Regions from separate parts of the Homo sapiens genome. Here region 1 is linked to region 2. Evidence: fine-mapped expression QTL. A gene starts in region 2. The other region holds a variant in brackets. All regions are shown on one strand. Distances are from middle to middle.

Region 1 (8,335 bases), 27 kb after region 2:
TTCTAGTAGAGACGGGGTTTCACCATATAGTCCAGGTTGGTCTCGAACTCCTGACCTAGTAGTGATCCTCCCACCTCGGCCTCCAAAAGTGCTGGGATTACAGGCGTCAGCCACCGCATCCCCTAGAGATCAATTTTCTATGACCAGAGAGCCTCTTTTATGCTAACTCTAATGTTCATTTTTGAGAGTCAAATGTAAAGAAGGCAAACGTGGACACATCTGCATCTGCTGGCCTTTTCGACGTGGCAGAGCCCGAACCCCCGTACCTGTGTACTTCCAGGTGACGTCCTCCAGGAGCAGGTTGCTGTCTTTCGGCATGTGTTTCTTAAGCCAGGCCCAACAGTGGACCTGCTGGTCGGTTGGAGAGATCATGAAGAAACTGAAAAGTGAGACCCCAAAATAATCAAAACCAGGTAGCAGCAAAAGGATCAGGAAGCAATCAAATCTTATTTGGTTTCAAAGCAATGAGGCAAATACTAGGAAATGATTTCTTAGCTTTCACAGAAGGCCAGTAGCACCATTCTAGGATACACCACCTAACAACAAAACAAAATTCTGGCTTCCTGTTAATGCCAAGAAATTATACAGATTTACTAACGTTAAGACATCGGCTGGGCACAGTGGCTCACGCCTGTAATCCCAGCACTTTGGAGGCCAAGGTGGGCAGATTGCTTGAGCTCAGGTGTTCAAGATCAGCCTGGGCAATGTGACAAAACCCTATCTCTACAAAATATACAAAAACTGGCTGGGTGTGGTGGCGTGTACCTGTGGTCCCAGCTACCTGGAAAGCTGAGGTGGGAGGATCACTTGAGCCCAGGAGGTCGAGGCTGCAGGGATCCATGATTGCATCACTGCACTCCAGCCTGGGTAACAAAGTGAGACCCTGTCTCAGAAAAAAAAAAAAAAAAAAAAAAAAAGACAAGGCATCTTCTCCCAGTAGGGTACATAATCTGGTGGGCTTTTTTTTCTTTTCCTCCTGGTGATTTCTTTTGTTTAGGACTGCTAATAAACTGGCTTTGATTTCATGTAATGATTCTTAGTCCCTGGGATTTATGGTTCGTGGAGAAGCGCCTGAGAGCCTCTGCTACAGTACCCCTAAGGAATCAACATGTTGGAGGAAGCAGAGCGGGACGGCAGCTCATCTCACCTGCGCTTGTTCAGTCGTGCTATGCTGCAGTCATTTTCATACCCTCCACCCTCGTTGAGCATGCCAGTATGCACAATGTGGCCCACAGGCACATCCAGGTCATTGGAGAAGAGGTACTGTAGAACTTCTAATGCCTGATCCCCAGTGGTCTGCAGGGTTAGGGAATGAAACAGAGAGAGTGAGAGTGAGAGCACCTGGCTGCGCCACATGGCCCCACCAGCAATGAACCTCATTGAGAAAATTCAATCAGCCAATTCCCATGTGACAACACTTGCAGACCTACTCCACTGCAAGAAGCTCCAGGGAATGCTAGCTATTGATTCTTATGATAAACAGGCCTCTCTAGCAAATTAAAAACCCGAAACAAGGAGCTAAAATTTCAGAAAAATGTCACAATACAGATGAAACACTAAAATATACCAGAATTCTTAAGAAATCAGTGTTTTGTTTTTGTTTTTGTTTTTTTTTTGAGATGGAGTCTCACTCTGTTGCCCAGGCTGAGTGCAGTGGCGCAATCTCAGCTCACTGCAACCTCCACCTCATGAGTTCATGCGATTCTCCTGCCTCCCGAGTAGCTGGGATTACAAGTGCCCGCCACCATGCCTGGTTAATTTTTTGTATTTTTGGTAGAGATGGTTTCGCCATGTTGGCCAGGCTGGTCTTGAACTCCTGATCTCAGGTGATCTACCCGTCTCGGCCTCCCAAACTGCTGGGATTACAGGCATGAGCCACCACTCCTGGCCTTAATTTTTGTATTTTTAGTAGAAACGGGGTTTTACCATCTTGGCCAGGCTGGTCTGGAACTCCTGACTTCAGGTGATCCACGCCCCCCTTGGCCTCCCAAAGTGCTGGGAATACAGGCATGACCCACTGCACCCAGTCAGGAATCAGTTTTGAAGATGAAAAACAAAAGGCATTCAATAAATATGCAAAGTTTCCTAATCTATTACTTTGGTTCCCAAATACTTACTGTTATCTCAAACTCTGTGAAAGAGGACATGTCAATGACACACACAGCTTCCTTACAGCACTTGACTTCAGACTCCACGATGTCAAACCAATCTGGCTTATAGAAAGTCTTGCTCTGCTCCAATGCCAGGAGGTCTACGGAATGGAAAAATCACAAGGCCCTGTAGAGTTTAGTGTAGTCCACGTGGTTCTTTTTCTTCTGTGAACACATTCTAGCCTATGCATTTGAAAATACGTTTTATTAATTCCCAGGACAAAAAAAAAAAGGAGCAAAAATGAGAATGTGACTTCTTACCCTTGTCAGGGGGAACAAAGTACTTTGGCCTCTCAAATCCATGTTTCTCCATCCACCTGGCTCCCTGTGCATCCAGCCGGTCGTAGAGAGGAGAGGTGCGTAACTGCCTACCGGTCTGGAAGTCCCAGTGGGGAACCTTCAGATCATACATCAAAGCTAGAAAAGACACGAGTAGTCTATCAAAGCCCAAGACACAGATTCTAGACCTGAGTAGCCAATATCCACTAGACTCTGGAGTTGTTTCTATTCAAAAGAGCTTTCCAGGCTAACGTAGTTTGTTTTTTTTTTTTTTTAAGACGGAGTTTTGCTCTTGTTGTCCAGGCTGGAGTGCAGTGGCACAATCTTGGCTTACTGCAACCTCCGCCTCCTGGGTTTAAGCGATTCTCCTGCCTCAGCTTCCCGAGTAGCTGGGATTACAGGCACGTGCCACCGTGCCACACTGATTTTTGTATTTTTAGTAGAGACAGGGTTTCTCCATGTTGGTCAGGCTGGTCTCAAACTCCTGACCTCAGGTGATCTGCCCGCCCCGGCCTCCCGAAGTGCTGGGATTACAGGCGTGAGCCACTCTGCTCGGCCCAATTTCCAGGCTAATGTAGTCTAATTTTCAAAATTACCCAGTGTATCAGGCATGCTCCAGAAGGAAAGACAATCCTGCCAAGCTGCTATCGTCCCTCCCTGGAGCTACGTGTCACGGCATGACTCGGCCTGTATTCACATTCAGCATTCCACATTAGTAGGTAGAAATGATGGCAGAAAGGTCAGGGTCCTAAACCTTACTAAGCTTCATAGCAGAGAACAAGGTTACTAAGTGGGACACAGGTGGTAACAAAATGTGAAAAAATGGCATTCGATTCTTCATTGTGCCTGTGTTAGGATCTCAGACCTGTTACAGACATTTCCTCCCTGATAATTAACTCACTTCTGAAGTGAAAGGGTACATATTGTAGCTTGATTAGGTGGCTCTGAAATCTGAGAAGTTACATTGTATTGTACCAATGACATTATTCACACAACAAAGCTAGGGTCAGAATTCATTTCTCTTAGGCTGGGTGTGGTGGCTCACGTCTGTAAACCCAGCACTTTGAGAGGTCAAGGTGGGCGGATCACGAGGTCAGGAGTTCGAGATCAGCCTGACCAATGTGGTGAAACCC[T/C]GTCTCTACTAAAAATACATAAATTAGCCAGGCATGGTGGCAGGCACCTGTAATCCCAGCTACACGGGAGGCTGAGGCAGGAGAATTGCTTGAACCCAGGAGGCAGAGGTTGCAGTGAGCCGAAATCACGCCACGGCACTCCAGCCTGGGCAATAGAGCAAGACTATCTCGGAAAAAAAAAAAAATTTCATTTCCCTTAATGTCTAATCTTCAACAGCAATAAGTAAAAAAAGCCAGAAGAGTGGGATCTGTGGTCCCTTGCAAAGAGAAGACCTGATCTCACACCGTCCCAAACAAAAGGCACATCAAGGCTTGGGGAGGTTGGGAGACAGGAGAAGGAAGCCAGGTGGGGTTCTCTGCATGGTGACAATCTCTCCATCTCCTGGTACTTTAGGTTCTATCTTCCCCTTCCCCATTTTCTTTTCTATTTTTTTTTTTTATTTTTTGTTGAGATGGAATCCCTCTCTATCACCCAGGCTAGAGCGCAGTGGTGCGATCTTGGCTCACTGCAACCTCCGTCTCCCGGGTTCAAGTGATTGTCCTGCCTCAGCCTGCCAAGGAGCTGGGATCACAGGCACATACCACCACGTGGCTAAATTTTTGTATTTTTAGTAGAGACAGGGTTTCGCCATGTTGGTCAGGCCAGACCTCCTGACCTCAAGTGATCCGCCTGCCTCAGCCTCCCAACATGCTGGGATTACAGGCTTGAGCCACTGCGCCTGGCGCCTTCCCCATTTTCTATGTGCCTGCCACTTCTATTTCATGAGAATTGGCTACCAAAAGTGTCATATCACCAAGCAGAAGCTCAAGCTCAATTATGATTTGTACAGGTTCCAAAGTAACTATGGGTGGGGAAATTTAGGCTTATAATAGTTCAACTTTAAAACAAAAAACTTTGATTTTTTTATTTTATTTTTTTGAGACAGGGTCTCAGTCCCACTGCCCAGGCTGGAGTACACAGTGGCACCATCATGGCTCACTGCAGCCTCAACTTCCCCAGCTCAGGTGATTCGCCTACCTCAGCCTCCCAAGTAGCTGGGACTTCAGGTGTGTGCCACTAAGGCATGGCTAATTTTTTGGTTTTGGTTTTAGTAGAGACAGGGTTTCGCTACGTTGCCTAGGCTGGTCTCAAACTCCTGACCTCAAGTGACCTACCTCCCTCAGCGTCCCAAAGTGCTGGGATTACAGACATGAGCCAGCACACCCAGCCAAGTTCAACATTTTAACCAAAATATTTGCTAAAATTAAAGAACCTTAGCAGTTAAACATATTGCTGTTAGGTCCTTCATCTCCATGGATGTACATCCTCTTCCCAGGCCAAAAGTGAGCACTCAGGCATTAAAGGCCATCCAGAGTCCTCACCAACAATGTTGTTCAACTACCAAACTAACAGTTTACTTGTAACCAAGAATGGTGGTCAGAGCCAACACAGAAACTTAGTCCTGAGCATAAGTATGCCCAAAATATTTAGATACCATTTGGCAAAGTCTGAGAACAGCTCCTCAGTACAGGAAAATGAAATTACAACTTGAACCCACGTGGTTTGGTTCAATTCCTGATACAAAAGCTTTCTAAGGGCTTCCTAGAAAATAAATCAGAGATCAAGGTAGAATAACAAATTAAGATGAAGTGGCCAGTCCTTCAAAGTTGAAGCAGGGCGAGAACACGGGAGTGAGAGCAGGAATGTATGTTTTGTATTTATATGGGAAGTGGCTCCCAATCTTGCTGCTGTAGGGTGGATTAATGGTGAAAGTCACTCACGGAAGCCTGAAGCTCTGAGAATAACTTGGCAAATTCTCTGACTTGGAAAGAAAAAACTAAGTGGGGAGTGAGAAAGCATTTTCTCAAAAACTAAGTGGGAGTGAGAAAGCATTCACTTCGACACAGGGTCTCTCAAGGCAGACTGCAGAAAGCACGCACTTCGACATACGGTCTCTCAAGGCAGACCGGGAAGAAGGCATTGCTTAGAATATTTATGAAGCTGCTATGTACCAACTGTAACTCCTATTCTACTTTCTTGTTCCCAGAAGGAAAAAAGGTCCGATGCACTAAAGAAAATGTTACATATATATCATGAGGAGCATAAAGCCCCTTAACTCAGGCCTGAAACAGTCAAATCAAATGTCCAACTCAAAGCACTTGTTAAAGAACTGAGGAAAACTTTGCTCCTTCTGAATGACAACACGGGCCACCGAGAAGATACCTGCAACTAGGAGCAACTGCGATAAAGCTTCACTTACGCATGACTTCCATGACCCGGTGGCGCAGAAAGGTGCGGCTGCTCTGGAGGGCTCCAAAACGTTTCAGGTCCAATTCCCAAACGTTTTCTGAGGGATAACCATGTACCATCCATTCGGCAAGGTACCTATATAGACAGAGGGCACTTGTTGGGGCTCAGGTGTGAGATTTGAGAAAATTAATATTCTACAAATCGAGAACTAACAGAATCAAAAGATCCTAAATTGCCATAGACCAGCTGAATAGTTTTGGGCACTTTCCTTAACTTTTCTGGAAGCAACGAACATGGGTCTGTGTACTGCTCTCAAAAGACTACTATGAGGATTTTACCCCAGATGATAAGATTCCCTAGGAGGCATTTAACATAGAAGCCAGCCAGACACATTGGCTGATGCCTGTAATCCCAGAACTTTGGGAGGCTGAGGCAGGGGATTGCTTGAAGTCAGGAGTTTGAGACCAGCCTGGACAACAAAGTAAGACCCCGTCTCTACCAAAAAAAGAAAAGTTTCAAAGTGAGCCAGGTGGCTCACACCTGTAATCCCAGCACTTTGGGAGGCTGAGGCATACGGATCACCTGAGGTCAGGAGTTCGAAACAAGCCTGACCAATGTGGAGAAACCCTGTCTCTATTAAAAATACAAAATTAGCCAGTGTGGTGGCACACGCCTGTAATCCCAGCTACTACGGAGGCTGAGGAAGGAGAACTGCTTGAACCTGGGAGGCAGAGGTTGCAGTAAGCCTAGATCACGCCATTGCACTCCAGCCAGGGCAACAAGAGCGAAACTCCATCTCAAAAAACAAAAACAAACAAACAACAACAAAAAAAAAAATTAGCCGGCGTGGTGGCACATGCCTGTAATCCCAGCTACTCGGGAGGCTGAGGCAGGAGAATCACTTGAACCCGGGAGGCAGAGGTTGCGGTGAGCCGAGATTGTGCCATTGCACTCCAGCCTGGGCAACAAGAGCAAAACTTCGTTTCAAAAAAAAAAAAAAAAAAAGAGCTGGGTATGGTGGCACATGCCTGTAGTTAGTTCTAACTCTTCTGGAGTCTGATGCGGGATGATCCCTTGAGCCCAGGAACTTGCGGCTGCAGTGAGCTATGATGGTGCCACTGCACTCCAGCCTGGGTGAGAGTAAGATCTTGTTTCAAAAAAAGTTATAAGCCTCATCTATGAAGAAATAAGACTAAAACACATATAAATATACTCTAAATATCCAATGGGTTTTTTTCTCTCACCTCAAGATTATACAGTTATGTGACCCCATCTCCTTTGCTCCAAACATTTTTGTAACTCCTCTTCTGTAATTGTTTTTAGAGCCATTCTACAAATCACTCAAGAGAACTGGTCTCATAAATTTAAAATAAGCTTTTCATCGTGGCTACCATCTTACCCATTTGTAAGTATTCAGTTCAGTGGCAGTGGGTACATTCACACTGCGGTGTAACCTTCACTACCATCCATCCTAGAACTCTTTTCCTCTTGCATTTGTGGAACTCTGTGCTCATTCAAGAATAGCTCCCCTCCCCCGCCTCTGGCAAACACCATTGTACTTTCTGTCTCTATGATCTGACAACTCTAGCAACTTCATATAAGTGGAACCACACAGTATTTGTCCTTTTGTGACTGGCTTATTTAATGTTCATTAGTGTCTTATTTTATTTTATTATTATTATTTTTATTGAGATAGAGTCTCGCTCTGTCGCCCAGGCTGGAGTGCAGTGGCGCAATCTCGGCTCACTGCAACCTCTGCCTCCCGGGTTCACGCCATTCTCCTGTCTCAACCTCCCAAGTAGCTGGGACCACAGGCGCCCGCCACAACGGCCGGCTAATTTTGTTCTTGTATTTTTAGTAGAGACGCGGTTTCACTGTGTTAGCCAGAGTGGTCTCGATCTCGTGACCTTGTGATCCGCCCACCTAGGCCTCCCAAAGTGCTGGGATTACAAGCGTGAGCCACCGCGCCCGGCCTAGTGTCTAATTTTTAAACAAAAACTTGTGGCCGGGCACGGTGGCTCATGCCTGTAATCCTAGCACTTTGGGAGGCCAAGGTGGGTGGATCACTTGAAGTCAGGAGTTCAAGACCAGCCTGGCTAACATGGTGAAACCCTGTCTCTACTAAAAATAGAAAAATTAGCCAGGTGTGCTGGCACACGCCTCTAATCCCAGCTACTCGGGAGGCTGAGGTAGGAGAACAGCCTGAACCCAGGAGGTGGAGGTTACAGTGAGCTGAGATCATGTCACTGCATTCCAGCCTGGGTGACAGAGCAAGACTGTCTAAAAAAACAAACAAAACGTGTATTACCTAGTTCAAATACCTACCTCAATCAACACACTTGGCTACCAAACTCAAATACACACTCAAATGACCAATATTTGTTACAATTGAAAAAATATAAAAGAATATCCCACAGGATCTGTGGCTAACTCCAAAAGATGAGTTGCAAAAACATTTTGCCTGATGACATTTCTGGAACATGGGGAGCCTCTCATACTTAGAAGGGGACAACTCCAAAATTACATGTATCTTCTTATTAGTC
Region 2 (8,335 bases):
GCACCTGTAATCCCAGCTACCTGGGAGGTTGAGGCAGGAGAATCGCTTGAACTGGGGATGTGGAAGTTGCAGTGAGCCGAGATTGTGCCACTGCACTCCAGCCTGGGCAACAGAGCGAGACTCTGTCTCAAAAAAAAAAAAAAAAAAAATTGCCAGAAGCAGATGAAAGACAACCACAGGTTTAAATGAAAACAAGCTGAAACAATGCAAACTTTTTATACTAGATATTCGACTTAAAAATATCTCAATGAAGGGTTAGTTTTCTCAAAAAAAAATGAAAAAGAAAACAGGAAATAGCCCTCAACTTATGGAAAAGAATGAAATCTCCCATTCACTGGGTAGTTATGCAAAGGCTTTTTCTTCTACCATTTTCCATTAAGCAGAATAAAACTTGAGAATGAGTTAGGATTGTTTGTTAGACTATAACATGCTAACAAAACCACTTTCATCTGCCCTGTCTGGGAAAATGCGGTGGATACAGGACATGTGGGAAGGCAGAGAAACATTTGATTTATATGGCCCACAAGAGAAAATGTTTACAACTTCCCTAAGCAAATGTACTGCAAATTATTACACATAATACCTGTGTACATTCCTATGCCATTCAACTCTTGGCATTACCGATTTTTGCCTGGTAGCAGTGCAAAATTGAGATCTTTTTTTAAAAACTAAAGCCTGTTTTTTGGCCAGGCACAGTGGCTCACACCTGTAATTGGGAGGCCGAGGCGGGCGGATCACACGGTTAGGAGTTCGAGACCAGCCTGGCCAATATGGAGAAACACCATCTCTACTAAAAATACAACAATTAGCTGGGCATGGTGATGGGAGCCTGTAATCCCAGCTACTCGGGAGGCTGAGGCAGGAGAATTGCTTGAACCCGGGAGGCGGAGGTTGCACTGAGCTGGAGATCGTGCCACTGCACTCCAGCCTGGGTAACAGAGCAAGACTCCATCTCAAAAAAAAAAAAGTAAAGGCTGTTTTTATTGGGGGAATAATTAAGAATTGACTCAGTATAGACATGGAAGTGAGGAAAGAAAATATGTGAAAAGAAAGGAAGAAGAAATTATGGAAGTCGTGTTTCTAGGGCCCAAATCAAGAGAAATCTTTTGCTAATCATTGCTCTTTGGAGCCAACCTGTTCTTCGACACTAGATGGCGTCATTCACTCACCTCAGCTCATCTCTTGGCAAGAGAAAAATTTGATTCCCAGTTGGGCATAGATTTGGGAATCTCCCCCAATTACTTCCTGCCATTTCTGCTTTCAGCTGAAGCCACCCAGGCAAAATTTTGAAGGAACTTGAAGAGGCTATGGGTGCAAAAAGACTGGGTTAAGCATCCACACCTCCACCCTTACTGTCCTCTTGCACACTGCTGCTGGGGGATGAATACATTAATACAAGCAGATAGTATGTGCTTCGATTTCCCTTACTGCTGGTATTACTCTTCTAATTTTTTTTTTTTCCTCGAGACTGGGTCTTGCTCTGTCTCTCACACTGGAGTGCAGCGATGCGATCACAGCTCACTGCAGCCTCAACGTCCTGGGCTCAAGCGATCCTCCTGCCTCAGCCTCCTGAGTAGCTGAGAGGGCAGGCACGAGCCACCACGCCCAGGTAATTTTTAACTTTTTTATAGAGACAGGTCTCACCTTGTTGCCCAGGCTGGTCTTGAACTCCTGGGCTCAAGCAATCCTCCTGCCTCGGCCTTCCAAAGTGCTGGGATTACAGGCATGAGCCACCGTGTGCAGCCTAATTACTTTAAGGACCATGGTCAGTGGTGTTCTGGTAAACATGTAACAATCAGTTCTCCAAAAAAGGGATGAGGAGCATTGATTTGTAAGCCTTTCCCAATTTCACTGGTATAAATACTTCCACGGTGCCTGGTTTCAAGCCAACAACCTGAGTTGGAAGGAGAGGCGCAGGAGCACAGTGCTACATAGTATTTCCACCTTACAGATAAGATAGACAAAAATAACCTGAGGAGCACACCTGATAGTAAAATGTAGTAAAGAAATTAGGGCCGGGTGCGATGGCTCACACCTGGCCTTGGGAGGCCAAGGCGGGCAGATCACCTAAGGTCAGGAGTTTGAGACCAGCCTGGCCAACATGGGGAAACTCTATCTCTACTAAAAATACAAAAAATTAGCCGGGCGAGGTGGTGGGCGCCTGTAATCCCAGCTACTTCGGAGGCTGAGGCAGGAGAATTGCTTGAACCCAGGAGGCAGAGGGTGCAGTGAGCCGAGATCATGCCACTGCACTCCAGCCTGGGCAACAGAGCAGGACTCCATGTCAAAAAAAAAAGAAAAAGAAAAAGAAAAGAAATTAGAATGCAATGTGTTGAGAGTTTTAAAAATCTTTTCTTAATGTAATCTATTTAATTGTAAGTTTATCCAATTTAATTTTTTTTTTTTTTTTTGAGATGGAGTCTCACTGTGTTGCCCAGGCTGGAGTGCAGTGGCGCGATCTCAGCTCACTGCAGGCTCCACCCCCTGGGGTTCACGCCATTCTCCTGCCTCAGCCTCCCGAGTAGCTGGGACTACAGGTGCCTGCCACCTCGCCCGGCTAATTTTTTGTATTTTTAGTAGAGATGGGGTTTCACCGTGTTAGCCAGGATGGTCTCGATCTCCTGACCTCGTGATCCGCCAGCCTCGGCCCCCCAAAGTGCTGGGATTACAGGCGTGAGCCACCGCGCCCGGCCCAATTTAATTTTTAACAATGGTTTTGTTTAGCCTCCAGCTCACAAAATTTCTGAAAATTTAACAATTGGCTTTTGCAAACCTGTGCAACCTGGCTCCAAGCCCACCCATTCCAGTCCTATTTAAATGATCACTGCCTTCATGACTGTTACTTAATCCCCAGTTGTTTTCATTTTGTACCTGTTTCTGTTTTTCTCAAGAAAACTTACCAAGACTTGGGTTCATTTAAAGTAGCCCTCTTCACACAGTGGCAGATAGTTGTAGGTGACAAATCTTTGTCAAATGCTTGGGACTTTTCCGGAAGGGGGTGGTGCTGATTGGTTGGTTGACTGATTTGTTCTCACTTACTAGGACCTCAGCTGGCCGTTCTCTAGCAGTTATTCAAAACATAGAACCAATGACAGAAGAATTCACTATGATGCTTGTTAAAAATTCATGTTTCTGGCCAGGTGTGGTGGTTCACGCCTGTAATCCCAGCTCTCTGGGAGGCCAAGGCGGGCAGATCACTTGAGGCCAGGAGTTCAAAACCAGCCTGGCCAACACAGTGAAAGCCAGTATCTACCAAAAAGTACAAACTTTTGCCGGGTGTGGTGGTGCACACCTGTAGTCCCAGCTACTCGGGAGGCTGAGGCCAGGAGAATCTACTGAACCCGGGAGGCAGAGGTTGCAGTGAGCTGAGATTGTACCACTGCACTCCAGCCTGGGCGACAGAGACCCTGTCTCAAAAAAATAATAAAAATTCAGGTTTCTGGGCCCAACCCCAGACCTACTGTGTTACAATCTCTGGGGATCTGTGTTTTTAAGATGGTCTCCATATGGTTCCTGCCCACATGAAAGTTAGAGAACATTTATTTTGATGTAGAACAATCAATTTTTTTTTTAACAGTCCAGGGGTCTGGTTTGTTTTTTGTGCCATTTTAAAATCATTTATTTATTTATTTTTCGTAGAGATGAGTCTCCCTATGTTGCCCAGGCTGGTCTTGAACTCCTGGGCTCAAGCGATCCTCCTGCTTTGGCCTCCCAAAATGCTGGGATTACAGGTGTGAGCCACCACGCTCGGCCTTTTTTTTTTTTTTTAATACCTATGAAGCCATTAATTCAAGAGGATTGGGTTCCAGCAGCTTGGGTTCGTTTTCCCTGTTCTCACAAATTGTGCTTCTCTGGCTGGAGCAGGCTGGCACTTCAGTTGAACCCAGGTACTCTCTGGCTTCCTTCTCTTTTTTTTTTTTTCTGAGATGGAGTCTCCCTCCGTCGCCCAAGCTGGAGTGCAGTGGTGCAGTCTTGGCTCACTGCAACCTTCGCCTCCCAGGTTCTAGAGATTCTCCTGCCTTAGCCTCCCAAGTAGCTGGGACTACAGGCACGCGCCACCATGCCCGGCTAAGTTTTATATTTTTAGTAGAGACGGGGTTTCACCATGTGGGCCAGGCTGGTCTCAAACTCCTGACCTCAGGTGATCTGCCCGCCTCAGCCTCCCAAAGTGCTGGGATTACAGGCGTGAGCCACCGTGCCTGGCCGTTTCCTTCTCTTTTGATCATTTTCCCTCACGTGTTTCTGAAGGCCTTCCCAGCTCTTGGAGTGCTTGGTATGCTCCATACACACACATGAATTCTCTTGGCAAGAATCATGCTGTTGTTTGTTTCCAACCATGCCAACAGCATACTAGATACATGTAGTCTCTTCCTCTTTTGCCTTGGTAACATCTGTGGGGCATTCCTTTTGCCTTGGTAACATCCGTGGGGCATCTCTTGACGTCTATAACATCTCCTTTCTTGTAGGTTCGTGTGGATGTGGCCAGAGGAACAACTCCATGTGTTCTAAAAGGCCTGAGAATATACAGCAGGTACCTCTCCTCTTTCCCCATGTTCATCATTGTGGTGACGGCAGTTCTAGTTGAAAGGACTCTCTTGGTAGATTTTGGTGCAGACAAATCTGTTAACATTTTTTCCTTATGGCCAGTACTTTCTGGATCATATTTAAGAAGTCTTTTCCCAGCTCAAAACCCCAAATATATTCTCATCATAGTGTCTTCCTTCTCTGCAGCTCTCGTGCTAAAGTCTGATCAGTGTTAACATCATTTGAGTCATCTTTTAATCAAAATAACCAGCTAGGATCCTTGGTTCATGTAGAGCCCCTATCTTCTTCATTTTCTTTGTTTTCATTTTTTTTTTTTTTTTAGACCGAGTCTTGCTCTGTCACCCAGGCTGGAGTGCAGTGGCGTGATCTCGGCTCACTAAAACCTTTGCCTCCTAGGTTCAAGCGATTCTCCTGCCTCAGCCTCTCGAGTAGCTGGGATTATAGGTGCCTGCCACCATGCCCAGCTAATTTTTGTATTTTTAGTAGAGACAAGGTTTCACCATGTTAGCCAGGCTGGTCTCAAACTCCTGACTTCAAGTGATCTGCCTGCCTCGGCCTCCCAAAGTGCTGAGATTACAGGTGTCAGCCCCCGTGTCTGGCCTCTTCCTCATTTTCTTTTTTTTTTTCTTTTTTTTTGAGACGGAGTCTCGCTCTGTCACCCAGACTGGAGTGCAATGGCATGATCTTGGCTCACTGCAACCTCCGCCTCCCAGGTTCAAGTGATTCTCCCACCTCAGCCTCCTGAGTAGCTAGGATTATAGGCGTGTGCCACCACACCTGGCTAATTTTTGTATTTTTAGTAGAGATGGGGTTTCACCATGTTGGTCAGGCTGGTCTCAAACTCCTGACCTTGTCATCTGCCCGCCTCGGCCTCCCAAAGTGCTGAGATTACAGGCGTGAGCTACTGCACCTGGCCTCTCTTCCTCATTTTCAATCCTGACTCCATCCCACCTTTTACCCCTCAGCATATAAACCCTCAGCTCCCTCCCATATTACACATGCACATCTGCACTCTGCAGCCCCCGGTATAGCCTTCCTCCATCCTTCTTTTCCCAGTTAACCTTCAGCAAATGGCTAATCTATGTCTGTTGCCTTCCTTGTCTTCCAACTGTTTCCTTAATCATCTGCAATCTGGCTTTTGCCCCCCCACCATTCCACTAAAGTCGCTCTCACTAAAGTCACCAATGGCTTCTTTGCCCATCCAGTTGGCCCTTCTGAGCCCTTATGTATTAGTCCGTTTTCACACTGCTGATAAAGACACACCCAAGACTGGGTAATTTATAAAGAAAAAGAGGATTAATGGACTCACAGTTTAAGTGCCTGGGGAGGCCTCACAATCATGGCAGAAGGCAGAAGGCAGAAGGCACGTCTTACATGGCGGAAGACAAGAGAGAACTTGTGCTTGGGAACTCTTCTTTATAAAACCATCAGATCTGGTGAAACTTATTCACTATTATGAGAACAGCATGGAAAAGACTCACCCCCATGATTCAATTGCCTCCCACTGGGTCCCTCCAGTGACATGTAGGAATTGCAGGAGCTACAGTTCAAGATGAGATTTGGATGGGGACACAACGAAACCATATTACCTTACCTCCCTGACTTGATCCCTGGCACTTCTATCATGGTACTCTTAACTGCTTCTTGGACCCTCCTGAGCTCCTTTGGCTCCATTTTCTCTAGACACTCATTTGACTCAACTGATATCTTAAAGAATCCCACATCGTTATCTGATGCCTCTGATTCCAATACTCATTCCTCTTTCTTCCAGACCCTGGCTGGTCACGCCACTACACGCCATCAGAACACAGGAGCCATACTGGCCGCCCTGCTCAGCCTCAGCCTCTGCATTCAGCCACCTGGTCCTGTGGGTCCTACCACGTGGACGCTCTCTGACACCTGCCCTTCTGCATTCCTGCTGCCCCTGCCTATGTGCAAACATTCATCTCTTTTCTGTTTTATTGCTACAGTTGCCCAACAGCTCTTTCTACCTACGTTCTCACCTTCCCCCTCCTCCCTATTCTACTCCATTGCCAGAGTTACATGGCTGGAGAAAGAACCTCAAATGTAGAGTGGCATGAATCTCACTCCTCAGTTCATGACTGCCATCATCATCATCACCATCATCAAACGTGTCCTTTGATTTTTTTTACCTGATTTCCTCTATCATTCTAACCACCCTTCCTTCCCACACACATAAGCTATAGCCACTTCAATGTGTTTAATAAATGTCCTTAGATATGGATGGATCCGCGAAGAACATGCAGCATAATGTCCTTGAACTCCTGACCTCAGGTGATCCGCCCACCTCAGCCTCCCAAAGTGCTGGGATTACAGGCGTGAGCCACCGTACCCAGCCCATGCAGCATAATGTTCTATGTGCATGTGTTTTAATTTCTATAAGTTTCCCTTTAATCTCATTCTTTCCTACCTTTTTTTAAAACTCAAAACTATGTTTTAAAGACATGTCTTCATGGCTGTATGTATAGATTCATTCAGTTCATAGCTTGTAACTGCTGGTGGCAGCAACAGTACTATGTGTTCCCAAATCCTGTTCCACATTCCTCTTTCCTGGACATACTGCAGACTACACTTGCCACCCCTTTGCTCCAGAGAAGGCCACGAGATGAGTTCTGGACAATGAAAAAATATAAGCAGGCCGGGCGCAGTGCCTCACGCCTGTAATCCCAGCACTCTGGGAGGCAAGGGTGGGTGGATCACAAGGTCAGGAGAGAGACCAGCCTGGCCAACATGGTGAAACCCCGTCTCTACTAAAAATACAAAAATTAGCTGGGAGTGGTGGTGCATGCCTGGAATCCCAGCTCCTTGGGAGGCTGAGGCAGGAGAATTGCTTGAACCAGGGAGTTAGAGGATGCAGTGAGCCGAGATCGGGCCACTGCACTCCAGCCTGATGAGAGAGTGAGACTGAGACAGTGAAAACCCTCTCCTGTCTCTCTCGCCTGGGCGATAGAGGAGGGACATGTTGAGATGGCAAGTCACACAGGGTGCAGCCTGACTGCTGAGTCCCTTTAGAGAGCAGAGATGTCCTAGAGAAACACTTGCCTTGCATTCAATTTGATGTTAGCTGGAATAAAACTTGGGTTCAGCCATTGAGATTTCAGGGCTGTTTGTCGTCATGACGTAACTCTGCCTACGCTGCTAGTCCACTAAGGTGGGGATCCACTGTAGTCATCTGCCATGGTTTAGTTACCTACCTCCTAGTGCTGGACACTTGGGTTACTTCCAGCTCTCCACCGCCACAAACAAAGCTACCACATGTCCTCATAAGGACCTGAGCAAGTTTCTGTGGAGTCCATGTCCAGGAGTTTGCAGGAACATAGAATATAGGCATAGTTCATGTCTCTAAGTACAGCCAGATTGCACACTAGAGTGGCTGCAGTCCTTTATGCTCCTACTCACAGTTCATGAGGTTACCATTTCTGAAACCACAGTATATTTTAGCAGCTTAAAGCATGGACTCAAGTCAGATGGCTTGACTTGGAATCCAAGATGTATAAACTAGTAGGTGTTCAGGCTATTTGGCCGGACGCGGTGGCTCACACCTGTAATCCTAGCACTTGGGGAGGCCGAGGCAGGGGGATCACCTGAGGTTAGGAGTTGGAGACCAGACTGGCCAACATGGTGAAACCCCATCTCTACTAAAAATACAAAAAGTTAGCCAGGATGCATGCTTGTAATCCCAGCTACTCAGAAGGCTGAGGCAGGAGAATTGCTTGAACCCAGGAGGCAGAGGTTGCAGTGAGCTGAGATCGCACTATAGCACACCAGC

Alleles and levels. Alleles are on the strand shown, and positions count from the first base shown. SD is a standard deviation of normalised expression in the study named.
For the expression in prefrontal cortex of the gene that starts at base 4,508 in region 2, C is the low allele of the variant in region 1 and T is the other (moderate effect, 0.60 SD a copy in BrainSeq).

The links. PIP is the estimated chance that this variant, and not a neighbour inherited with it, causes the effect.
Region 1: its variant is fine-mapped to the expression of PCHILR in prefrontal cortex (BrainSeq, PIP 0.95).

What each region holds. Positions count from the first base shown.
Region 1 is chr16:74,336,328-74,344,662 of GRCh38, forward strand. It overlaps the pseudogene PDPR2P. Among named protein-coding and RNA genes, the nearest start is that of PCHILR, 27 kb to the left of the region's middle. The variant T/C (reference allele first, on the strand shown) is at 3,563.
Region 2 is chr16:74,308,830-74,317,164 of GRCh38, forward strand. It overlaps PCHILR (prostate cancer associated HIP1 interacting lncRNA), which reads left to right and starts at 4,508. Exons shown (of 2, transcript NR_186416.1): 1 at 4,508-4,531; 2 at 6,317-6,811. It also overlaps the pseudogene RPL21P118.